Homo sapiens: one gene and its partners. Changing the gene in region 7 together with the main gene of any one other region gives a genetic interaction. Each region holds a gene or a part of one and is shown on either strand. Other genes may lie near its edges. The genes, in order: RPAP1, KMT5B, SURF4, CACNG1, KIF3C, LRRC57 and ETAA1.

Evidence for each region.
Region 1: changes in ETAA1 (region 7) and RPAP1 are lethal when combined (synthetic lethality), as found in Homo sapiens cells (one large-scale study listed by BioGRID).
Region 2: changes in ETAA1 (region 7) and KMT5B are lethal when combined (synthetic lethality), as found in Homo sapiens cells (one large-scale study listed by BioGRID).
Region 3: changes in ETAA1 (region 7) and SURF4 are lethal when combined (synthetic lethality), as found in Homo sapiens cells (one large-scale study listed by BioGRID).
Region 4: changes in ETAA1 (region 7) and CACNG1 are lethal when combined (synthetic lethality), as found in Homo sapiens cells (one large-scale study listed by BioGRID).
Region 5: changes in ETAA1 (region 7) and KIF3C are lethal when combined (synthetic lethality), as found in Homo sapiens cells (one large-scale study listed by BioGRID).
Region 6: changes in ETAA1 (region 7) and LRRC57 are lethal when combined (synthetic lethality), as found in Homo sapiens cells (one large-scale study listed by BioGRID).

The regions. Positions count from the first base shown.
Region 1 is NC_000015.10:41,541,458-41,545,531, reverse strand, and holds the start of RPAP1 (RNA polymerase II-associated protein 1), read left to right. Parts: upstream 1-1,274; 5' UTR 1,275-1,313; exon of another isoform or gene 1,314-1,619; intron 1,620-4,074. UniProt on the Homo sapiens protein: Forms an interface between the RNA polymerase II enzyme and chaperone/scaffolding protein, suggesting that it is required to connect RNA polymerase II to regulators of protein complex formation.
Region 2 is NC_000011.10:68,210,497-68,214,546, forward strand, and holds the start of KMT5B (histone-lysine N-methyltransferase KMT5B), read right to left. Parts: upstream 2,801-4,050; 5' UTR 2,642-2,800; exon of another isoform or gene 2,638-2,641; intron 2,091-2,637; exon of another isoform or gene 1,140-2,090; intron 1-1,139. UniProt on the Homo sapiens protein: Histone methyltransferase that specifically methylates monomethylated 'Lys-20' (H4K20me1) and dimethylated 'Lys-20' (H4K20me2) of histone H4 to produce respectively dimethylated 'Lys-20' (H4K20me2) and trimethylated 'Lys-20' (H4K20me3) and thus regulates transcription and maintenance of genome integrity.
Region 3 is NC_000009.12:133,366,061-133,369,560, forward strand, and holds part of SURF4 (surfeit locus protein 4), read right to left. Parts: intron 1,484-3,500; coding exon of another isoform or gene 1,386-1,483; coding exon 1,199-1,385; intron 616-1,198; coding exon 539-615; intron 1-538. UniProt on the Homo sapiens protein: Endoplasmic reticulum cargo receptor that mediates the export of lipoproteins by recruiting cargos into COPII vesicles to facilitate their secretion.
Region 4 is NC_000017.11:67,047,554-67,051,053, forward strand, and holds part of CACNG1 (voltage-dependent calcium channel gamma-1 subunit), read left to right. Parts: intron 1-3,500. UniProt on the Homo sapiens protein: Regulatory subunit of the voltage-gated calcium channel that gives rise to L-type calcium currents in skeletal muscle. Regulates channel inactivation kinetics.
Region 5 is NC_000002.12:25,928,298-25,930,497, reverse strand, and holds part of KIF3C (kinesin-like protein KIF3C), read left to right. Parts: intron 1-434; coding exon 435-543; intron 544-1,020; coding exon 1,021-1,193; intron 1,194-1,426; coding exon 1,427-1,520; 3' UTR 1,521-2,200.
Region 6 is NC_000015.10:42,542,294-42,545,793, forward strand, and holds part of LRRC57 (leucine-rich repeat-containing protein 57), read right to left. Parts: intron 2,970-3,500; coding exon 2,784-2,969; intron 1,832-2,783; coding exon 1,790-1,831; 3' UTR 1-1,789.
Region 7 is NC_000002.12:67,403,833-67,407,332, forward strand, and holds part of ETAA1 (ewing's tumor-associated antigen 1), read left to right. Parts: coding exon 1-1,503; intron 1,504-3,500. UniProt on the Homo sapiens protein: Replication stress response protein that accumulates at DNA damage sites and promotes replication fork progression and integrity.

The DNA of each region.
Region 1 (4,074 bases), on a different chromosome or scaffold from region 7:
AACAAGACTTCCAGTTGATTCTGGTGCCTGTTAAAGTTGGAAAGCCACTGGACTAACATTGGCTGCCCCATGATGTCCTTTGGTCTAGAAATGATTTACTTAAGGTCCTACTATGTGCATGGCAACACGTTGGGTGCTCAGTATTTAGATGCAAAGTACAAGGTCTGGTGCCCACAAGGAACTGACAGTCTATTCAAGGGAACAGGACATAAGCCTGTGAAAAGGTAACCGGTGACAGTTGGTAGTTGGCAGTGTGTTCTTAGCATACCACACAACTGGTGCAGGCGGTGAGATTCCAGGTGAATCCAAGGAAAGTTTGGTGAGTAGGCGTGGCTGGCAGAGGTTTTAGAGTTGACGCCAGCTAGGCCTTAAAGAGTTATCCTTTGGAGACAGGGGTGGCAGGGAAAAGAGGGAGGATTTCCAAGAAGGGAGAGTGGGATGAACAAAGGCAAGATTCTGGAGAAGATGATAACCTTGCTAGCAAGGAAGCTTTATTCCCTCTCTTCTCACCACCACTATTTCTGCAGTGCACACTGGCAGTGTTCTTTCCTTGGGCCTTTTTCATGGTTACCTTCTAGCTCTTCCATAAACACATTCGTCACGTTGGGGTGTGTGTGTGTGTCCACGTTTCTGTGTGCTGCCGTGGGCGTGGGTGCTGGGATGTGGGATGTGGTAACACTGGCTGGTGAGTGCAGAGGGACGTCTGAGGAACGCTGTGTCCCTGCCAGGGGTGTCGTAAGTGCAGAAGGGGCTGTGCCTGCTGTACATCAGAAGCATGTGTGGGCCAGGCGCGGTGGCACATCCTGTAATCACAGCACTTTGGGGGGCCGAGGCGGGCGGATTACCTAAGGTCGGGAGTTCGAGACCAGCTTGGCCAACATGGTGAAACCCCGTCTCTACTAAAAATACAAAAATTAGCCAGACGTGGTGGCGGGCACCTGTAATCCCAGCTACTCGGGAGGCTGAGGCACAAGAATCGCTTGAGCCCGGGAGGCGGAGGTTGCAGTGAGCCGAGATTGCGCCACAGCACTCCAGCCTGTGCGACAGAGCAAGACTCTGTCTCAAAAAAAAAAAAAAAAAAAAAGGATGTGTGTTCTGGGTGATGGTATAGAGCTTACGTGGGGGTAATAAACCGCCAGCCGCGCAGCACCGCGCTCACCAGTCCGCTGCACTGAACAAGCAAAGCCCAGAATGCTCCGAGATAAGACCGGGAGAGGCGGGGCTGGGCTGCGGGGCGGAAGCTGGAATCTGGCGGCGGCGGAAACGCGATCTCTGCGGGGCAAGATGGCGGCGCCCAGACAGGCCTGGAGCACGTAGGTGGCGGGGCTGGAGGGACGGATTTCAGGTGATCTGGGAGGAGGACCCAGGGTAGCGTGTCCAGTTTCTTTGCTGGAACCTGCCTGCGGGCCTTTGGTCTGTAAGGGAGCAACTGTGGCCTCCTCTGTGCATAGATCTCGGGCACGGCCCTTCAACGGGCGGCGAAAGCTGCGACTCGATGATTCCTCATTGTAGAGTTGGGTGGTCCAGGAGGCTTAACTGGAGCCCTTGACCTGAGCGGTAAGGGCAGTCACGCGTCCCGACTCGGGATTGGATCCTGGCTCTGGAGGATAGGCTGCAATGTAAGAGCCCCAGAGACTCCTCAGAGGCCAACATAAACCCAGAGGTCCATTGTTAGGACTACTTTTTTTTACGAGTTACTCTTTAGGCATTACTCTTTAGGATTACAGGCGTGAGCCACCGCGCCCGGCCAACCCATTCTTATTCTATTAATAACTGAAAATGTTATCACTTCTAGCACTGATTGGTTCTGGACAAATCTGCGCTGGATTTGTGGGGAAACACACTGGTGGCTTTACTTAGGACTAAAATAATTGTTACTGAGGTTTATTTATATAAGTAACAGGCACTGGGCTAGGCGTTTTGCGTGTATAGTCATTTAAATCCTCACACATTTCCTATTATATAGGACCTGTTACTCACATTTTACAGTTGTGGAAATGGGACTTAAGACAGCATAGAGGCCGCGCACGGTGGCTCACGCCTGTAATCCCAGCACTTTGGGAGGCCGAGGCGGGCGGGTCACCTGAGATCAGGAGTTCGAGACCAGTCTGGCCAACATGGTGAAACCCCGTCTGTACTAAAAAAATACAAAAAATTAGCCGGGCGTGGTGGCAGGCGCCTGTAATCCCAGCTACTCGGGAGCCTGAGGCAGGAGAATCACTTGAACCCAGGAGGCGGAGGTTGCAGTGTGCCGAGATCGTGCTATTGCACTCCAGCCTGGGCAACAAGAGGGAGAATCTGTCTCAAAAAAAAAAAAAAAAAAAAAAAAAGGACAGCATTGATAATTTGCCTAATTTCGCACATTTAGTGCATTTAGTAAGTAGCGGAACTGGTATTTGACTTCTGGCCTATTGATTCCAAAACTGGTGCCCATAACCCCCTGGCTCTCTTTGTGATGTAGGTATGGCGCACCCTATGAAGTGAGCTGGACTTTGCTTTTGGATCACATGAATCCATGGATAAGTAGGAATTGTTTCTGCTTATGTAGACTCTTATAGGAGTGAATTGTTACCATACTATGGATTCTCAGTTCATCTAGTTCAGCCTTCCTTAGGGCCTTTGGGTAGGCATTGGGGTAGGAGACTTTTTCCTTGTTTGTTGGTCAGACTGCCCAACAATTAGATATGGTTATCTGCCCTTTGGCTATATAAATAATAAGAATCATAACTGGCGTTTGTGTCCTTTCATGTATGAGACTCTGTTCTAATCTTCTTACATATATATAATTAATTCAGGAGGTAGGTACAGTTATCTTCATGTTACAGATGAGGAAACAAGCACAGTAACTTCAGTAAAATACCTTGCTTAAGCTTACACAGTTAGTAAATGGCAGAGCCTGGATTTGAACACAGGCAGTCCATTTTCATACTGTTTACCTCCCATCCAGGAAAAGGCACATCTGTATACTTCGCTGTTGTCATGCTACAAATAGTAATTAATACAAGTTCTATGCCAAATTTAAGATGAAATTTTGTAGACAGGTCTTTGCTCACTTCATCCACTTCCTTCAGTTCTCTACTTATCTAAGTTTTCTCTTTCAATATTGACCTCTATTTTTAACCTTTAGGGATTTTTCCCACCTCTGAAATCGTGTAGCACTGATCTTCTATGCAATTAATTTCATCACTGGGATGTACTGCCTTGTAAATTTATATGTGTGTTTACCATATTCTCTCACCCCAACTTTGGGTACATCATTGACCAAAGGAAGACCTTTACAATCTTGGAGACATCATTTAAACTGTAAACCTTTGGAATTTCTAGACTTGTGTGGGCAAAGAGAGATAATGAAGTGGGAAATTATTAAAAGACCCAGCATTTCGGCATGGTCTCTGTCTCCCCAGTAAGCCCCTTGAACCCAGGGACTGGATTTTACTCCCATTTCTTTATATTTACAGCCCCTTGTACACCGCTCAGCCCAGAGTAAACTCTCAAAAAATTTTTTGATAATGTTCTTAAGGTCACACCGTCATGTGATTGTTTCACCATTTCTACCCCTTTAGCCTGCCCCCAACCCCTGTGTTGGGAGGTGTTTCCAAGGCTGGCTTAGTTATTAGATCTGATCCTGCTTAGAAGTAGATGAAGAAAAAGTAAGGAAATGTGTCATTCAGCACTTTTTTTTTGAGACAGAGTCTCATGCTCTGTCCCCCAGGCTGGAGTGCAGTGGCACGATCTTGGCTCATTGCAACCTCCACTTCCCGGGTTCACGCCATTCTCCTGCCTCAGCCTCCCCAGTAGCTGGGACTACAGGCGCGTGCTACCACACCCAGCTAATTTTTTGTATTTTTAGTAGAGACGGCATTTCACCGTGTTAGCCAGGATGGTCTCGATCTTCTGACCTCGTGATCTGCCTGCCTTGGCCTCCCAAAGTGCTGGGATTACAGGCGTGAGCCAGCACACCCGGCCTTCATTCAGCACTATTGTTAGTTCCAGCTATCTAGCTTGTCTACCTCTCCATCTCATCCTCCTTCAACTTTTAGGAGGTGGTCAACTTCATCATGTTCTCCCATGTAC
Region 2 (4,050 bases), on a different chromosome or scaffold from region 7:
TCTAGGCCCTATCAATGACTTATACAAACAGTGATAGAGCAGAGAATGGAATAAGAATTGATTCTTATTCCATGGTCCTTCAACTATTCCTAAAATTACACTTCTATACAGCAGTCATCATTTGACATACGGCCCTAGAAGATGGCCTGGTGTTCAAGTCTGTCTCATTCGGAGACCGGCTAGCCCCAAATCAACCCCATCCAGACACATAATGGATCACCCCCTGCATTTACTTAACATGCAGTATTGTAGCTAACAGGGTGATGGAGCGGAGGGAGGACACATGGTCCCTATCGTCAAAAGTGTGAGGAAGATTCTTAACCATCAGAGCGTTCTAAGGCTGACATAGTCGGGGAACTCCTGACCACGGAGAAGGATTTTGCCAATGGAGAGATTTGCCAATGTAAAGCTCATACATGGTACACAGAAACACGAAATAATGGGACCACGGCGATTTATCTGAAAGGATTTGCTCTGTAAGCCATGGGAAGGGCATTCCTGTGGACAGGGAGCTGCTTAGATGCCACACACACAAATCTCTTTATCACACAACCTGGCCACGAACCCAGGCCCTATAAACCCACAAACTGATAATCAGGTAAAGGAAAATCAGATTCAACCTCCTTTTTAAATAACCCAAGAGAAAAATCACCAACATCCCCCACCCACTAAATTCTCTGCTGAAAGACACGCAGACACCGGGACACTTCCTTCACACGCGTCTCTCCCTGTCAGAGTCCGCTACCCTCCATCCACCTCCACCTTCCCCACTACTGTCCCCTGGCATTTGCTGCGAGAATAAAAAGTTCACTGCATGAGCAGTTCAGGGTGTTTGGGAAAGCAGATGAAAATAAAGGCGCGAGAGCACTTGGAAATGATCATGGATAAAGAATCAAGCCCTACCCTACTCTCTTATTGAAGAAATATCTACCATATTCCCTTCACTCTCCAGCTCAGTTTTTAAAATATAATTATGTTTGTAAACAACATTAAAGTGGATTTATTTTGAAAAACTAATACAAACTATTAAGCTTGACAACTTGGAGATTAATAAATTAACCCATTCATTAAGGGTCTATGAGCACCTACTCTGTACCTGCCCGTGGGCGGACGAGATAACAAGAGACTCAAAAACTCACGAGTAACCACCCCAACGGCTGTGTGTGTGAAGGTTTCACCAGGAAGCAACATTCTCACGGGGCCTTTCTGAAGGACAAGAGTGTACGGGGTGGAGAAAAGGGGTGGAGGAATGCCGGGCAGGGCACGGCCGACAGGGACCAGGTATGGGAAGCTATTGGAGCCAGAGCTTGGGAGAGGGACCAGAATGTCGAATGTTTAGAGATTACAAAGTGAAAAATGGGCTGGAGTTCCCACACAAGCCGGGATTAGAGCGTTTGTGGACTCTAACCTGGGAATATAAGGCGCTCCAAGAGGGACAGGGCCACACCTCTGGTTCAAATTGCTAAACCTTCAGATACACAATAAATCTGTATTTACAGCAAGCGGCAATTTATGTATTTCAACATGCACACATTATCTGTAATTATTTCAGGTAAAAATGGTTTCCTCCTCTTTTGAAAATACTTCTTTTTACTACTAATTATCAATATTATAGGCGTGTTCTCAATATTAAAGACTAAAGGAAAAAAGTTATAGCTGGCAACTGCTTCCTCTAAAGATCCTACACAGCAAAGTTCAGACCTGTATGGCCATCCTCAACTACACTTTATATCAAACTGGTTTAAATCGAAAAAGGTCCACATCACAAAGAACCACAATCAATCAAATTAATTCACCTGCCCTCTATTCTAAGGAAAACTCCCCCCACTCCAGGTAAATTTCATTTGGCAAATTCTTAAAAATTAACTTCAAAGAACACATGTTCACCTCCCCAGTATTCCGAAAGTTCCACCACTTAATAAATCGTTAAGTTACTGTTCCAGACCCGGGTCCAATAAACCCAAATAGACTGAATTTCTCAGCACCCAACTTGTTTCTATCTTAATCCAGCAAGTTGCATCGAGTTGTCATTGTTCCTCCTTCCAAGGCGGAGGTGACAACGGTGCACATCATCCGCGAATACGTGGAAGGACAGACACACACCAGGGGACGCAGGGAGAGCGGATAAAGCACAAAGGGGACGCAGCGGCCGCGGGGTCGCCGGGCCACGGCCAGGGGCGCCGTCGGGGAGGAGGGTGGGCTGCAGGACGAGCTCGGGAGGGCTCCGAAATGCGCTCGGGCCAAAACAAAAACAAAAAGTTCAGCGCGGCAGTGGGAGCAGATTGGGCGAGACGGTTCACGGCTGCCCATTGGAGAAAAGGGAAAACAGAGTCCCCCAATCGCGAGCGGCGGGGCTGCTCCCCTCGTGCGGCCGCGGGCCCGGCCCCGACGCTGCCCGGCGGCCGCTACCGCTCCCTTCCGGCCGCGGCCACCACTGCAGGCCCCGCGCCGGCCCCGCACCGGCCCGGCCGCAGCCCCGCCCCCCGCGCCCGGCCGCTTGCGCCCGGCCCCGGCCCCACCCGCCCTGGCCCCGGAGCCCTGCGACCGGCCTGGGCCCGCGGTCCCCCACGTCCCTGCCCGCCCCGTCACCGAGGCCGCCCCCCGCACACCCTCGCCGGCGCCCGCCCCTCCCCCGACTCACCGCCTGCGCCGCCCCGCTCCTCCTCGGGGCGCGTCCCAGGCCCCGCTGCCCGGCCGCTGCGATGCGGGGCCGCGCCGCCGGGCCCCGCGTCCCAGTCCCCCCCAGAAAATTAATCACCAAAAATAATTCCAGAGAAAAATGGAGAGTAAAATCCAAGATGGCGGCGCGGGCCGCAGCACCGCTCGCTCCCTCCGCTGACGGGAAAAATGAGTCCCCGCAGCGTCCGAGCCCCCCGCCCCCAACCGGCCGCCGCCGCCGCCGTCGCGCCCCCCGCGCCCCCGGCCTCGGCTCGCTGCGCCCCCGGCGCCCGCCCCCGCGCCCCGCCACCCGGGGCCTCACCTCGCCTCGCGCACGGCCGCCCGTACGAAAACCGTCCGCCGGCTTCAGGACTCCGCGTCCCAGGTCCGTGCGCCGCGCGGTGCCGCCTCCGGTTCCCGGGCGTCCTCACCTCATCGCCCCGCTGCCCTGCCGCCCGCACCGCCGCCGCGTCGCCGCCCCCGGTGAGCCGCCTGGACCCCGCCCGGGCACGGTGGAAGGATACGAAAAGAAGGCCGCGGCCTCGACGGCGGAGGGACACCGTGCGGCGCAGCTGCCACAGTGTGCGCGCGCCTCCCGCCAGGCCCAGCCGCCGCGGCGCTTCCACGGGGCTCTGTGCGGGACGCGGGCACGCGCGGGGAGCGAGTTCTGTGCCGGGCGCTCCCGACGGCGGAGGGACAAAGGGCGATTCAGAGCGAGCCGTCGCCTCCCCTCGTGGCGGAGGGATTCGCGGCCGGCCGGTAGGCGGCTGGGATCCCTCCGCCCTCGCTGCCCTTTAAATCGCGGCTGAGGCGGCGTCGCCCGCGCCCCGCGGGCGCCACGTTAGGGTCCCCTGCGGCCCTTACGCGACCGCATTCCGGTCCCGGTCCCCGCGGGACCGCGGCAGCTGTCCCGGGCCCTGGGTCTTTGCACACCTGCCCCTACCAGGGACGGCTCTAGAGCCAGCCTCTCGGACTGCAGCCCTGGGGAAGGGGACCCCCCCCCCTCCCGCCGCGCGTCCCAGTTGCTCCGAGGGAGGTGGCCCCGGGCAGACGAGCGTTTTTGTTGTGGGAATGGGGGTCACTGGCAGCAGATGCACCCTAAGACCGTGTGGGCAGGCTGAGCGTTCCTGCGCGGAGCATGCGAGGGAGGAGGAGAGCGGGCGCGCCTTGGCCTGGCCCCCCGCGGGCCCCGCCGCCCCCAGCACCCACTATGTGCCCCGCGCCGTGCTCCGCTCCACTCCGGGTGTGCCCTGCGCGCTGGCCGTGCGATCCCTCCTCGGGGATCCCGGGCTGGCGGGGAGATCCTGAGGGACCGGGCCGCCTGCGAGCCGGGGAGCTGCGAAGCTTGCCTGGGCATCGATCTTGTAGTCCAGACAACAGAACGATGAGCGC
Region 3 (3,500 bases), on a different chromosome or scaffold from region 7:
TCAGCCTTTCCAAAGGCATTTCCACAGACTTCATAATACATTAGGCCGTCTCTCCAATGTCAGCTGGAGTCTAAAACACACAAAACCATTGTAGGAGACCGAGGACAGATCTAAGCTCAAAAATGTGGTTCTGTATTTCTCAAGAAATGTGCTATGATGTTCCAGAGAACAAAGTGATTCTGAGACCACTGATGTGGATTCAGATATTCTGTTCCCAGCATTTCATTCTGAATAACCAAGTATTCTTCTTTATGAAGCAACGTGATAACAAGACAGCATCCTGGCTGCAGCCAAGCTCGAGACTTCCCTTGTCACGGTAATCATAGAAATGGGACAAAAGATGGCCCAGTACCGAATGACCTGCCTCTACAGCCCTGCTTGGGCTCACGACTTCCCCAGAAGAGAAAGGAGCTCCAGGCAGTCAGAGACATGCAGGGGGCTGAAGGGGGAGTGACACTGAACCCTCAAGGATGTCTTTTCAGAAGCTCTGCTCCACCAGAGCAAAGAGAAGGGAGCCCCGACCACGCGGCCCGTGTACCTGCAGAGCTATGATTCCAAAGAGCCCGAAGCAGGCGTACTGCACGAAGTTCCTGCTCAACACCAGGACGCAGCCAGCTGGAGAGAAGGACAAGGGTTAGGGGGCCTGAGGGTGGGTGCCGGCGGGGAGCACTGTCTTGATACACTGCTACCTCACCTGGCCCTTAGGTCCAGAGGCAGCCAAACCACCTACCCAAGCAAAAGACAACTTCTGGAAGAATTAATGATAGGCAAGGACCACACATGGTAAGCTGACTAGACTTATCACAAACACCAGAAAGTGGAGCCCTTGCCGTCATAAAGAATGGGCTGTTTCCCACAATCAGCTCCCAAGTCAGCCACCCACCTGAGGTAGGCAATTAACTGCTCTACTGTGGACTGCCAGCCAGACTCCAGCATCTCCTGCTTTGGGTCCCTGACAGGGACCATGTCCTATTTCCTTAGCAAGCTCTAAAGCAGTGAGCTCAGGGCTAGAGACTAAGCGTCCCCACCAAGGCTTGCAGAACCGGACTCCTGGCCTGGCACAGCTGAGCTGGAGAAGAGGGGAATGGAGGGGGGACAGCAGTCCAGGAGACCCCCGAGTTCACACACAGCCTCCCAACTGCTAACGATCATGGAACAAGACGCCCAGTGAATCCTGACCACCCGCAGAGCCACTCACTCAGCTGTCCCAGCAAGTTGAGGAAGACGAAGGACGAGGCCAGCAGGTAGCCGCAGTTCCAGGTGGTGTCGATGTAGTCGCGCTGCTCGCTCCACTGGAACCACATACGGATGCCGTCCTCCAGGAAGGTGCTGATCAGACAGAGGCGCGCCACGTGGGGCAGGTACTGCTTTGTGACACGGAGGAACTGCAGGGCCACAGAAACCCAAGGGTGAGGTGGCTGCGGCGGGGAGCACCAGGCCGCTGCCAGGCACGTCCTTGGGCGGGGTGTGTGAGGAACAGACGCTGTGGAAGGCAAGAGCTCTTGTCAGCCCCGGTGCCTTCCCAGGGCAGACTAGGGGGCTCTCAGTGCTTGCTCCTGAGCGCTACCCTGTGAGTCTGGACACATGCAACAATCCAAGGATCAGTCCCGGAGATGCATGACTTGACGTTAGGCCCTCTGGGGCAGATCCTATAGGGCAGCAGCCCTAACACTCTGCTACCGTGATTTCCCCCAGTGCCTCGGCAGGCAACTACAGTCTTCCAAGGTGGCACTGCCACAAGACACAGAGCTGCTCTTTTCGGTCAAAGGCATTTACAAGTTGGAATCACAGAATGACATCTGAAAAGGCACTTAGAGGTCATCTATCCAACGTTTCTGCACCTCAGCACTACTGGCATCTGAGGCCAGGCCACTCTTTGCCGTGGGTCATCCTGGGTGCTGCAGGCTATGACGCACGACATGTCTGCCCACGACATGCCAGCAGCAGCCTCCCTCCTGAGGCACCGCTGCACTTTGCCAGGCATCTCCGCTGCTCTGGTCCAACCCCTCACCTTACAAATGGCTATATTAAACCCAGCGGGAAGGGGTTCCCCTAGGCTTCGCAGACCTGATGGTGCAATGCCAAGACTTGACCCCAGCCTGCAGGTCACACATGGCTGAGGTGCCAAGGGCCTGGACCTCCCAGCCTGCCCAGTGACGCCCAGAGTACCCTGACAGAACAAGGGTTGGCTTAGGTGACAGCCAGGGTGCCACACCTAGAGGGCCACATGGTTGACTGAATAGTAAGATCACGTTTACAGTTATCCGAAAATCTCCAGAGCAGCAGGAGGAGGCCCCAGGCTCTGGACAGCGCATGTGTGCTGTTGCAAACCAGGGCTGGCGCTTCCCAGCCCGACGGAGCTCTCCCCTGCAAGCTCAGGATCTGACGTGGGGACTGTGTGTGCAGCAACCGTCAGCGCAGCATGAAGCTGGTACCGCTAATGGCTAGAAAGCGCTGGGATTTTGTCAAAGCCTGCATAATCTCGAGCAAATTAAAACACACTAACAAATGGGATGGACAGCTGTTTCAACAGCAATGAAACGCAAGTGTGTGAAATCACTGTCAAATGTCAAAGGGAAAGAAAACATTTATGACTTCCTGCTGTGCTGTGAGTCAGGTCATTTATGACGGCTGGGTTAGGTAGCCAACATGCACTATCGGATGCCAGGTACAAATGTCACGCAGGTTCACCCCATGCACTTTTCTCTTATCACCCATGCAAAACTGAGATATAAAGTGAAAGAAATACTGTAACACAGCAAGTCCTTCGGAGAAAGATCAGGGGACCCATCCACCAACGCATGTTGGGAAGCCAGAGTCTAAAGAGCACCCGAGAGGCTGACCCCCACGGGAGGCGAGCGAACGTCAGCTGCACAGGCCTCCTAGGGCTGACTAAACCTACTGTTGGAACAAAGGAAGATATGCGTGTTTCTTATTTTTCAGCATTTTTAAAAGTTGCTTCAAAGTCCTAGACACTGCTGAAGCTGCCCATCTCAGTTACCACGCCCCTGGGTGTTCAGGTCACCCTCCAGCCTGTCAGGTGGGGCCCTGACTAGGTCAGCACTGCAGATTGGCTCCCATGTGGCAGAGAACGGAGGCAGAGATTACAAAGCCAGGTGGCCATTCTCCCCAAACCCACTGCGCCCTGCAGTGTCAGTTCTGCACACATTTACTCAGCCTTTGACTCCACGGAAGTGATGGGAGAAATCACAGTGACCGACAGATACCCAGAGAATCACCAAGTGGGTTTGGGAGATGAAGTGCAGGTGGAGGTTCTGAGGCCCTGTGATCTCATCCTGCCCTGGTACCATCCAGCCAGCACACCGTGTGACCTGGACACGCCCAGTTACTTTTTTGAGAGTGTCTCTACTATCCTGCAGTAGAGTGAGGCCACCTGAACTAATGGTTGGTAAGATGCTTTCCAACTTTACTAGGAGGAAGACCTTGTTTCACTTTTTATTTTTAAAAAGGCCCCAAATACTCCCCTGTGAATTTTAGGG
Region 4 (3,500 bases), on a different chromosome or scaffold from region 7:
GTCTGGTGATTCCCTGAAAACCCCCACTTGAGAAGCTGTTTCTGTTTGACCTGACTCTGAGCTCATCCAGTGCAAATAGTCTTTCTCCCTGGGGATGTTTGTTGAAAATAATTAGAGATGATTGATTAACATCATGGCTGTCTGAGGCAGTAGATAACAGTTAGGGAAAACAACAGGCTAACCAAAAAACTGGAGACTGAAATGTCCATAAGTTGCTTTGAAAAGCTCCAACATATTCCTGGGAATCTAGGAGGCCACATGCATGCACAATGCTATATGCATGCTCAGGAAAGACCTGAGAAGGCCCTAAGCACTCTCTGCCTTATCTTGAGACTCTGTTCAAGCAGGAAGTGAAGGCTAAGGCAGAGATGTGGGTGGCTTAGCTGAGCATGAAAGTCATATGCACAGAGCCCCTCAGTAAAGACTGGGAGAGGCATTGTTGCCAAGCGTTTTAGGAAATTTATAATTGGTCACTAAGCTAATTGAACAGGGATCTCAGTGATCACACATGACAAAAAACACATACTTTACCATCTTAGTTCAAAAAAGTCACTAAACAAACAACGGGAACAAATCTTCAAGAAGGGGGAACAACTGATTTCCAGAGTTGCCACATTATATTGTTTAAAAAATACTGGCTGGGTGTGGTGGCTCACTCCTGTATTCCCAGCACTTTTGGAGGCCAAGTGAGAGGACTGCTTGAGGCCAGGGGTTTGAGATCAACCTGGGCAATATAGCAAGACCCTGTCCCTACCAAAAAAAAAAAAAAAAACAAAAAAAAAACCCCACAAAATATCCAGGAGTGGTGGCATGTGCCTGTAATTCTAGCTACTCCCAAGGCTTAGGTGAGGGAATTGTTTGATCCCAGGAGTTAGAGACTACAGTGAACTATGATCATGCCACTGCACTCCAGCCTGGGTGACAGAGCAAGACTCTGTCTCTAAATAAATAAATACATACATAAATAATACAAGACACACAAAGAACTAAAATGATAAGGGGCATACATGGGGCAGGGAGAAGTCAATAGATCTGTAAGGAAGCCAGATATTGGACTTACTAGACAAAAACTTTAAATCAGCTATAGTAAATATATCCAAAGAAAAAACAATCAAAACAATTAAAGATGAAAATGATGCCTCATGAAATAGAAACTATCAATTAAGACACAGAAATTATTTTTAAGGACAAAATAGAAATTCTGGAGTTGAAAAGTACAATAACTAAAATGAGAAATTCACTAGAGGGGCTCAATGGCATATCTGAGCAGGCAAAAGAATCAGTGACCTTTAAGATAAGTCAGTTGAGATTAGCCAGTCTGAGGAACAGACAGATAAAAAGAATAAAGAAAAATGACGAGAGCCTCGGAGACTTATGGGACACCATCAAGTTTATGTAAAGGGAGTCCCAGAAGGAGAGGGAAAGAGAGAAAGGAGCAAAAAAGGTATGTGAAAAATAATGTCCAAAAGCTTCCCAAATTGGATGAAAAACGTTAAAAATCGACAAATTTATGAAGCTTAATGAACTCCAGGTAGAATAAACTCTAAGGGATCCACATCTAGACACATGATAATCAAACTGTTGAAAGATAGAGACAGAGAATCTTAAAAACGGAAAGAAACAACTCACCACATATGAGGAATCCTTAATAAGATGAACAGCCAATTTTTCCCCAAATCTATGGAGGCCAGAAGGTGGTGGGATGACATACATATATTAGCTCACCTAATCCTCACAGAAACCTCCGTGAAGGCCATGCTATTATCATCATCCCAATCTTACAGATAAAGAAAATCAACCACTGAGAGTTGAGATATTTGACAAGGTAACACAGGTGATGAGCAGAGCAGCCAGGACTCACACTCAGACCCTAACATTCACCGTTTTAGTCAATACATTAACTACTTTACAACAACCCAGTGAGTGGGTTCTTATTCTACAGGTGGTTCTTATTCTACAGGTGGGTCTCATTCTACAGGTGGTTCTCATTCTACAGGTGGTTCCTATTCTACAGGTGGTTCTCATTCTACAGGTGGGTCTCATTCTACAGGTAGGAACAGGGAGGCTGAGCATAGCCTTCCCCAGGCTAACCAGCTAACAAATAGAGGTTCTCCACTCAAGTCTTGAATCCAGAGCCTCCTTTCCCTCCAGTTCCTTCTCACACCCTCTATTGTGCATGAAAACACAGCTCCTAAAAGCTCTGACCCAAGTGAACACAAGGAGTCCAGCTTTTGACATGGCATAGTTTGAGGGCAGCTGGACCAGAAGCTGGTGCAGTGGAGCAGACTTCTCAAGGTCCCACTTAGTCTTAAAATGTTGGAGGCTCAGTGGGCAAGAGTTGTCTAATTTTTCCAAATTAGACAGTCTTAGACTCCAAACAGTCTTAGAAGGACTTCCATGTACAAGATCAACATCCAAGACCAATTCCAATGCCTCCAGAATGAGAGTAGGAGCCTCTCCCAAAGGAGAGACTATGTGTTCTGAAAGTCCAAATGAACCCGCAAAGAGGCCATCCCCTGCCCTTGGGCTGGGTGAAGTGCTGCTTCTTTCAGACTCTGCCTCTTTAGGGCAAGGAGGCAGGTTGCCCCAGGGCCCACTTTGCCTAGTGCCCCATTTTCCCTACTGGTCCATCTTCTCTCAGTGCGGGAACTGGGATTGTATAAAAGAGCATGATACTACTGACCCCAGGAATTTCATGGGCTCACTTCACCACCCACAGAAGTCCATGCCAGAGGCCTAGGCCAAAGCCAGGCTTCTCCCATGGAAGAGCAGTGCTCTGAAGCTCTAGGGTCAGGTCTTGGAGATTTCCAGCCCATTTTATAAAATTCTTCAATCAGAGATGTGGAAGGAGACACAGCCCAGAGAAACCACTGTTGGGAGCTGATAGAACTTCTTTTACCAAAAGGCTAAAAACAACACTGACATCAATGCAAGTTAGAGGCTTCCTTGCACCCCTAAAGTACCAGTTTCTTTGGTTTTGGACAAATCCACAAAGTATCTTTGAATATATGAAAGTCTCCATGGACAGTCACTTGGCACACTGATACATTCTCAGTGATAACCCAAGGCATCCACTAATCCTGCCAGCTGTTCCAACTATCAAAGAAAGATCCCTATTAACTCAAGTTCAGCTTGGAGCTAAATGTGGCTTCTGCTCTAATTCTTTGAAACTGGCACACTACACATGGTTCTGCACAGTTACTGATGCCCTTAACCAGAACACTGGGTTAGCCAGACTATTCCATCCCCCAGTCAAGTCTGAGAGCTGAGTTCACCATATTTTTAATAAATAACCCATTTAATATTTTTAAACCGCTGAGTCTTACAGAAATAAGGAGATTAAAATCAGCATAAGCCATCTGCAGAGACAAAGGAGAATGGCACGACCTCAGAGTTCCTAACACCCCAGATCATCATCCTGGCATTGGAATCTTTGCTGACTTAGTCGGAAGCAAAGCTGCAATCCCTGAGCTTTGTGTAAGTGTGATGGAAGCCAGGGC
Region 5 (2,200 bases), about 41 Mb from region 7:
AATCCCAGCTACTCGGGAGGCTGACGCAGGAGAATTGCTTGAACCTGGGAGGTGGAGGCTGCAGCGAGCTGAGATTGTGCCACTGCACTGCAGCGTGGGTGACAGAGTGAGACTCCATCTCAAAACAACAACAAAAACACAATATACTCTAATAGAAGTGATGCAGGTGTGTCTGTCTCTCGAAACATCTGATTGTACTGTACTTGCCTATTTTCAGACCACAGTAACTGAGACTGTGGAAAGCGAAACCACGGATGAGGGGGACAACTGCACTAGCTTCAGTTGTCAAGCTGTATTAGAGCAAGGAGAAGAAAATTCCAGAACTTGCAGTCTGCAGGGCCTCCTAGCTACCTGAATGATATTTAGGTCCTCATGATGTCATTTGCTGTTTGTGTTCCACAGAAATCCTTTCTAATATAGCCTCTTTCCTACAGCAGTAGCAGCCAGATGAAGAAGCGGCCAACATCTGCAGTGGGCTACAAGAGGCCTATCAGCCAGTATGCTCGGGTTGCCATGGCAATGGGGTCCCACCCCAGGTACAGGGTAAGAAGCGGAGAGGGGAGAAAGAGCCTACGGGAGGGAGGCCGGGCGAGGTGTCTCACACCTGTAATCCCAGCACTGTGGGAGGCCGAGGCAGGTGGATCACCTGAGGTCAGGAGTTCGAGACCAGCCTGGTTAACATGGTGAACCCCTGTCTCTACTAAAAATACAAAAATTAGCCAGGCGTGGTGATGGGTGCCTATAGTCCCAGCTACTTGGGAGGCTGAGGCAGGAGAATTGCTTGAACCTGGGAGGTGGAGGTTGCAGTGAGCCGAGATTGCACCACTGCACTCCAGCCTGGGCAACAGAGTGAGACTCCATCTCAGAAGAAAAAAAAAAAAGAGCCTATGGGAGGGGATGCTCACAGCCTCTGCTTCCCCTAACCACCTCATCAGCCCTGCTACACCCAAGACTGGCTGAGTCCCTAGAAGGCACAGTGACTGGGCACTGTTCAAGCCTGGCATGATATTCCCACCACAGGCTGAAAACATAATGTTTCTGGAGTTGGATGTGTCCCCTCCAGCTGTCTTTGAGATGGAATTCTCTCACGACCAAGAACAAGACCCTCGTGCGCTACACATGGAGAGGCTCATGCGATTGGACAGCTTTCTGGAAAGACCTTCCACGTCTAAAGTCCGAAAGTCCAGATCCTGGTCAGTACCTCCATGGTCCCAGGCAGCACTGGACCCAGGAGGCAGGGGAACTGCAGGCGCTGGGTGATGCTAAAGAGGGTTTTGCTGGTACCCGAAGGGCAGGAAGGGCAAGGGGTGACTGGGGATGTCAGAAGGATTCCTGCAGCAACAGGATGGGGCAAAGGAGAGGACCCACTTTCCTGTTTCCTGTATTTCCCTAACCTCCCCTTTCGCCTGCGTCATCTCCCCTGCAGGTGCCAGAGTCCTCAGCGGCCTCCACCTTCCACCACACATGCCTCCCTGGCCTCTGCTTCTCTGCGCCCTGCAACAGTGGCGGACCATGAGTGACAACCATCACGTCAGGCTGCCCATCCAATAGACTCCTGGGATGGGGCAGCCAACCCTGGCTCATCTCATCTGCCGCTTGGTGCGTGTGCGTGTGCGTGCATGTGCGTGTGCGTGTGTGCAGGGGTGAGAATCTGGCAGATGGTGCCTCTGCCTGCTCTTCTTCGCCTCCTTTATTTAATTCATGTTATTTATTCGCGGAGCTCTGTTCGTGTTGGGGAGATGCCCTCGCCTGAGCCGTCTGGGCCTACCGTGGTCACTGCGTAGCCTCTTTTTCTTCTGACTTGAGAGCTCCCCCAGTCAGATCTCAGGCTTGTCCCCCTGTCAGCTGCCTCCAGAAGGGAAGGTAGCCAGTGCCTGAGAAGACAGTCCCTTTTCTACCCACCGCACTCCATAACCTCCATCTTCTCCCACACTGATGGCGAGCAGCCCCTGAGCACTTTCTGGGACTGGGAGACTGCTTGGTGTTCCCTGAGGACAAGAGACATCCTGACAGTGTTGGGCATCTGCTCCCCGTGGACACAGCCCCACTCTCCACTTTCTGAGCCTCAGACAACCTCATTCAGCCTCTTGGGCTCCTTTTCAAGGACATTAATAACCTCACCAACATAGCTCATGCCCTTCAGCTTTGACAAGAACTCACAGCTTCCCAAACTCTGCTTTCTGCCCACCTTGGATGGGAA
Region 6 (3,500 bases), on a different chromosome or scaffold from region 7:
ACCTCAGCCTCCCAAAGTGCTGGGATTACAGGCGTGAGCCACCGCGCCCAACCTCAGATTCTCTTAATAAGCATAGTTCTAGTATCACAAAATGTTTATGTCACATGAAGGCATTTCACTACTCATACAATCTGAACATAAGCATGAAACATGTCTTCCTAATCTATTTATAGGTTTAAGTTCTCCTGTCCTCCTCCTTTAAAGGATTAACCTTGCTTCCAGCCAAAGTTCATTAAAAAATTCTTTATTTAGTATATTCTGTCACTCAGAGAGTAAGCTTGATAAACATAGGTTGTTTTAAAATATTATAGTAATGGTTTATTGATAGGTAATTTGGTTAGTAGAGTTATAAATACAAAAAGGGAAAGGTTACCAGAAATAAGACATTATTTCTAACAAATCTTCAAGAAAATCTTGATTATTAAAGTCCCTTTTATCTTACAAGTGTTGCATATACAGTTTTGGCTCTTCAGAGCCCTCTACCAATAAGGCACCTGCAATAGTAGATAATTTGCTACCGCAGCCTTAGAGAGCAGTTCTTAGAGGTCTGCTGGTGCTTCTCTTGACAAAGCACACTTTTTTTTTGTTTCCCCCGAGACAGAGTCTTGCTCTGTTGCCCAGAGTCGGAGTGCAATGGCATGATCTCGGCTCACTGCAACCTCTGCCTCCTGGGTTCAAGCAATTCTCCTGCCTCAGCCTCCCAAGTAGCTGGGATTACAGGTACCCACCACCACGCCCAGCTAATTTTTGTATTTTCAGTAGAGACAGGGTTTCACCATGTTGGCCAGGCTGGTCTCGAACTCCTAACCTCGTGATCTGCCTGCCTTGGCCTCCCAATGTGCTGGGATTACAGGCGTGAGTCGCCGTGCCCAGCCAACAAAGCGTACTTTAAAAAAAAAAAATTATTTTTTATTTTTTTAATTTGAGACAGAGTCTCACTCTGTCACCCACGCTGGAGTACAGTGGCATAATCTCGGCTCACTGCAACCTCCACCTCCTGGGTTCAAGCGATTCTCCTGCCTCAGCCTCCCAAGTAGCTGGGATTATAAGCATGCACCAACACACCCAGCTAATTTTTGTATTTTTAGTAGAGACAGGGTTTCCTCATGTTGGCCACGCTAGTCTTGAACTCCTAGCCTCAAGTGAGCCACCCGCCTTGGCCTCCCAAAGTGCTGGGATTATAGGCATGAGCCACCATGCCCAGGCCAAAGTGCACTTTTAATCAAGACAAACAGTCACACATTTATGTACATCCTAAAGTCCTAGTATAAAAACTGCGACTGAACTGATGGACTAGAATAAAAATAATAAATCCTTAGATCCATGCCAGCCTCTCACAAATTATCTGAATTTCATAAAAATATGAAGTGTTAACACAGAGATGGAATGGCAACAGACTTTATGAAAGCTCACACAGTGAAACTAAACAAAATCTCAAGCTGTGGTGTGGAGCTATTCTGTTACCAGGCAGCACCCCCTCACCATATAAATAGCAGCTAGCTACTGGTTTCTTAAAGCCAAACTAATGATGGTTTTGAAGAGAACCTTGTCTATTGCCCTACTCATGACTCAAAACGGAAGACTTTTCCTGTCTCCTGATCCTTTTTCTTTTAGCTTATTTGAGAAGAGCCCTGAAATGAGAAAAGATCATTGAGTGAAATATAATCTCCTGAAGTATCATCTCCTTACTGTAGATACCCCTAACAACAACAGGAGGCTTTGACTCAGCCACATTCCAACAGAGGTTCTAAGTCAGTATCCTGTAAGGTTTCCATAGTCCTGGAGAACTTCACGCAAACTTCTTCTTGGTGGCTGTGAACCTCTCCATGTACTAAAAAACATGAAAGAATACATAAGGGGTATTTTGGCATGAGTAAATAAATATAAGCCTAACTATTTTTTTTTTCATTTTGGTTTTTATTGCATGTGGTTTTTCATTTCCTACAAAATATAACTGCTGTAAATGCAAAATGAATTACATAGTTTTGGCCAGGTGCAGAGGCTCACACTTGCAATCTCAACACTTTGGGAGGCCAAGGTAGGTGGATCGCTTGAGCCTAGGAGTTTCAGACCAGCCTGAGCAATCTACCAAAAATAGAAAAATGAGGCATGGTAGCGCCTGTAGTCTCAGCTAATCAGGAGGTTGAGATGGGAGGATCACTTGAGCTGAGATCCTGCCACTGCACTCCAGCCAGGTGACAGAGTGAGACCTTGCCTCCAAAAAAAATAAATAAATAAAGCACATAGGGCCGGGTGTGGTGGCTTACACCTGTAATCCCAGCACCTTGGGAGGCTGCGGCGGGCAGATCACTTCAGCCCAGGAGTTTGAGACCAGCTTGGCGAACAAGGCAAAACCCCATCCCTGCAAAAGTTAGCAAGGCATACTGGCACACGACTGTGATCCCAGCTACTAGGGGGGCTGAGGGATGAGAATCGCTTGAGCCCAGGAGGTGAAGGCTGCGCCAGTGAGCTGAGATTGCGCCACTGCACTCCAGCCTGGGCGACAGAGTGAGACCCTGTCTCACACACACACACACACACACACACACTATATATATATATATATCAAAAGACAAAGATGAAGACAAAGATGCTTTACAATAAGCTGTCTATAGAGAAAAAGTCATCTTGGTACAATACCATTCAGCCAATGCTTTGAATCTACTTCCAAAATGGGGAAGAACAAATCCTGTTGACATGAGCTATAAACATTTCTGTGGATTACTTCACCATTGTCTTCTCTGGGGTAGTGACTAGAAATGCAGAAGTACATTAATTCATACCTTATCATAGCCTTCCAGTTCTCGAAGTTTCTTTATTTCAAAAAGATTGCCTTCCACAGCAAGCAGACAGATCTGGGAATCACTGAGGATGCTCTGGGGAAGCATGCTGAGCTCAAGACAATTCTCTTCCAGGCGAAGAATTTTAAGGCGTGGACAGCAAGATATCTTCACTGAGATCTGAGATATCTATTGAAAAACCACAAAAGAATAACAGGAAAAAGCATAAGCACTATACTGGTTACTTTTAGTACATTAAAACAAAACAAAAATCTTTACTTGACTATTTGTTCTAGTTTTCCCCTCTTTTACCACCTCCATTTTCTCACTGCCTACTCACTCCAGAAGCCTCTGTTATCTAGCTTCTGTTACTACGCCCCCACTTAAAAAAAATGCTTTTATGAAGGTCACCCATGGCTTTTTGGGAACAAAATTTTCTGATGATAAAAGCACTGTATGTTCATTATAGAAAATTTGAGAATCACAGGTTTAAAGAAAAAAGTTTACCTGGAATCCACCACCCAGAAATAACCACCATAAACATTTTGGTACATTTACTGCCAATGTTTTATGTGTACATAGATACTGACCACTTTACTACCAAATTCAAGGATCCATTGTCCTCAGTCCCTACTGCATTTAACTGTACTATCTATCCCTTCCTTAAAACCCCTTATTTTTGTCCTTTTTTGGTTTTTCTTCCTATCTTTTGGATTCTTC
Region 7 (3,500 bases):
AAAACTTACTAGGTAGTGAACCTTTTGCTATGCAAAATATCGACATGCCTGAACTCTTTCCTTCTAAAACAGCCCATGTTACTGATCAAAAGGAAATTTGTACCTTTAATAGTAAAACTGTTAAAAATACGTCAAGAGCAAATACAAGTCCAGATGCCAGGTTAGGAGATTCAAAAGTATTACAAGATCTTTCTTCAAAGACATATGACAGAGAATTAATAGATGCAGAATATAGATTTTCACCAAATTCAAATAAATCAAACAAATTATCCACTGGAAATAAAATGAAATTTGAGAACTCTTCCAATAAAATTGTTATTCAAGACGAAATTCAAAATTGTATAGTTACATCTAATCTGACAAAAATAAAGGAAGATATTCTTACTAACTCTACTGAAGCTTCTGAAAGGAAGTCAGCTTTGAACACAAGGTATTCTAATGAACAGAAAAATAAGTGCATTTTAAATCAGTCTATTAAAGCCCCTGTTAATACTGATCTTTTTGGCTCTGCAAATCTAGGCAGTAAAACCAGTGTTAGTAACCCAAATCAGACTAGTGCATCAAAAGTAGGTTCTTTCTTTGATGATTGGAATGATCCCTCATTTGCCAATGAAATTATTAAAGCATGTCATCAATTAGATAATACCTGGGAAGCAGATGATGTAGATGATGATTTGTTGTACCAAGCATGTGATGATATTGAAAGACTAACTCAGCAACAAGACATTAGAAAGGACAGTAAGACATCAGAAAGTATATGTGAGATCAATAATAATTCCGAACATGGAGCCAAACTAACTCAGCAACAAGACATTAGAAAGGACAGTAAGACATCAGAAAGTATATGTGAGATCAATAATAATTCCGAACATGGAGCCAAAAACATGTTTGCTATATCTAAACAAGGAAGTAATTTGGTACAATCAAAGCATTTGAATCCAGGCAGCATTTCAGTGCAGACATCTTTGACAAATAGCTCACAAATAGATAAGCCAATGAAGATGGAGAAAGGGGAAATGTATGGAAATTCTCCAAGATTTTTAGGTGCCACAAATTTGACTATGTATTCTAAGATCTCAAACTGTCAGATAAATAATCTGCATGTGTCTTATACTAACACTGATGTTCCAATACAAGTGAATAGTTCCAAATTGGTTCTTCCAGGAAGTTCAAGTTTGAATGTAACTTCAGATCATATGAATACAGAAATTACTACTTATAAGAAGAAATTGAGTACTAATCAGCCATGCCATAAGACTGTAACAGATGAAGCTCAGAGCAACCTTAACACAACAGTTGGATTTTCAAAGTTTACATTTACAAGGATGAAAAATTCTCAGATTCTTTCTCAGTTTAATCAAAATTGTATAACTGGAAGTATGTCTGATACCAAAATTACACAGGGTGTGGAGAAAAAGAAAGGTGTCAACCCATTACTGGAGGAAGCTGTTGGACAGCAATCTTTGGTGAAACTTTCTGAATCTTTGAAACAATCTTCAAAAGGTATGTATGAAATATGAAATAGTTTTCTTTGAAAAGCATCTTAAAAAGTAGTAAAATAATTATTTGTTGTTTTTGAGTGTGAGTAATGTATAAGGTAAAACTATTCTATGACTAGTTAATTTTAAGAATTAACTAGAATTCTTAAAATGATACTTGGAAATAATTATACGGCATTATACAGAGTAGTTGGTTTATTTTTCAAAATATTACATTGAATTCTTTCCCAGCACTTAATACAATGACTGGCATATAGTAGGTACTCAGTAAATATTTTTTGAATAACTTATTCTTTCTTGGAAAATCATACCTTTAGATATATGTATTATAGTGTTCATTAAGATTGTATTTACTAAATTGTTTTAAAACTTGAGTAATCTGGGAAGCAGATGATGAAGCAGTGAGGTAAATAATATTTAGAAATTTAGAGCATTCTAATTAAACGTCTTTACTAGTGTGATATTTGATATAAACGTGCTAGCGGTGATGGTTAAAATTATGATTTACTTATTTGATAACAGCTATCATTTCTGATTCTTCCAATTTCTCTTTTCCCCAAGTCTCCATTCTATCAATAAGTTTCATTCTTTCAAAAACCGTATCCCCAGACTCCATTTTTCTTTCTACAACAAGTTAACATTTCTTGATGAGACTACTGCAGTTCTTTTATCTATCTCCTTTCAATTCTTATCTCCAAACAGTGGAATAGCCTTTTAAAATTGGATGGGCAAAAATGGCGTTTCTATGCTTAAAACAACCTTCAATGGCTGCCCGTCATATTTCAAATAAAATCCAAACTGTATACTGTGACCAACAAAGCTGTGGATTATCTCTCTTTAACCTGCGTCTCCTCTTTTTTCCTTACCTACTAAGCTTCAGCTATACCAGCTATCTTTTAGTTTTTCAAACAGTGTATGTTTTTCTTCCTTGTCCAGGAACTTAGACCGTGCTCTTCCCTTTGACTAAAACTACTTCTTTTCAACATGTGACCCCTTCCCCACTCTTTTGTTGGTGCTTTCTTACATCTCAGTATAAGTACTACTTTCTCACAGAGGCCTTCCTTGAAGAGTCTATAAATAGATCTCCTTGTTTATTTTTTATTTCCTAATTGCTTTCATCACAAGTTGAAATTAAATATTTAGTGACTCTTCTCTGTCTTGTTGGCATTACTGTTCCAACTTTCCTATCTAAGTGACTTTTTTTAAAAATTTACAATAGTAATATGCTAGTTATTTAAAAAGAAAAGTAAAACAGTATAGAATAATTTAAAGGAAAAAGTTAAGTCTTCTGTTTCTCCTTTCTGATAACCATCCCTTACGGAAAACCACTATTAATAGTTGGTATGATGTAGCATTTTCTATGAATATAAAAAGATATGTGTGTGTGTATGTACGTATATATGTGTATGCATATATATATACCTATAGATCTATTTAAATATTAATAAATCTGTATACCCACTATTTGGCAACTTGCTTTTGCCTTAATATATTATAGCTGTCTTTTCCTATTAGTACATATAAATTTATTTTAGTCCTGTTAATGACTATGTGATATATATGGTGGATGTATCATAATTTAACTGTTTCTCTGTGATGGAAGTTTGGGTTGGTTGCAGTCTTTTGCAATTACAAACAATACTCCAGTAAATATCCTTCTGCATAAATTTCCGCATGCTTGTATAATTGTATCTGTTAATTCCTAAAAAATTGCTACAAGAGGAAGTTTTAAAATTTGATGGATACCACCAAATTTCTATCCGAAGCAGTTATACCAATTTATCTTATCAAAACTTACAGTAAATAATTCTCTACACCCAAGGGTGTCCAATCTTTTGGCTTCCCTGGGCCACATTGGAAGAATTATCTTGGATCACACATAAGATACACTGACACTAACAACAGCTGATGAACTAAAAAAAAAAAAAAAAAAAATCACAAAAGAATCTCATAATGTTGTAAAAAAGTTTATGAATTTGTGTTGGGCTGCATTCAAAGCCA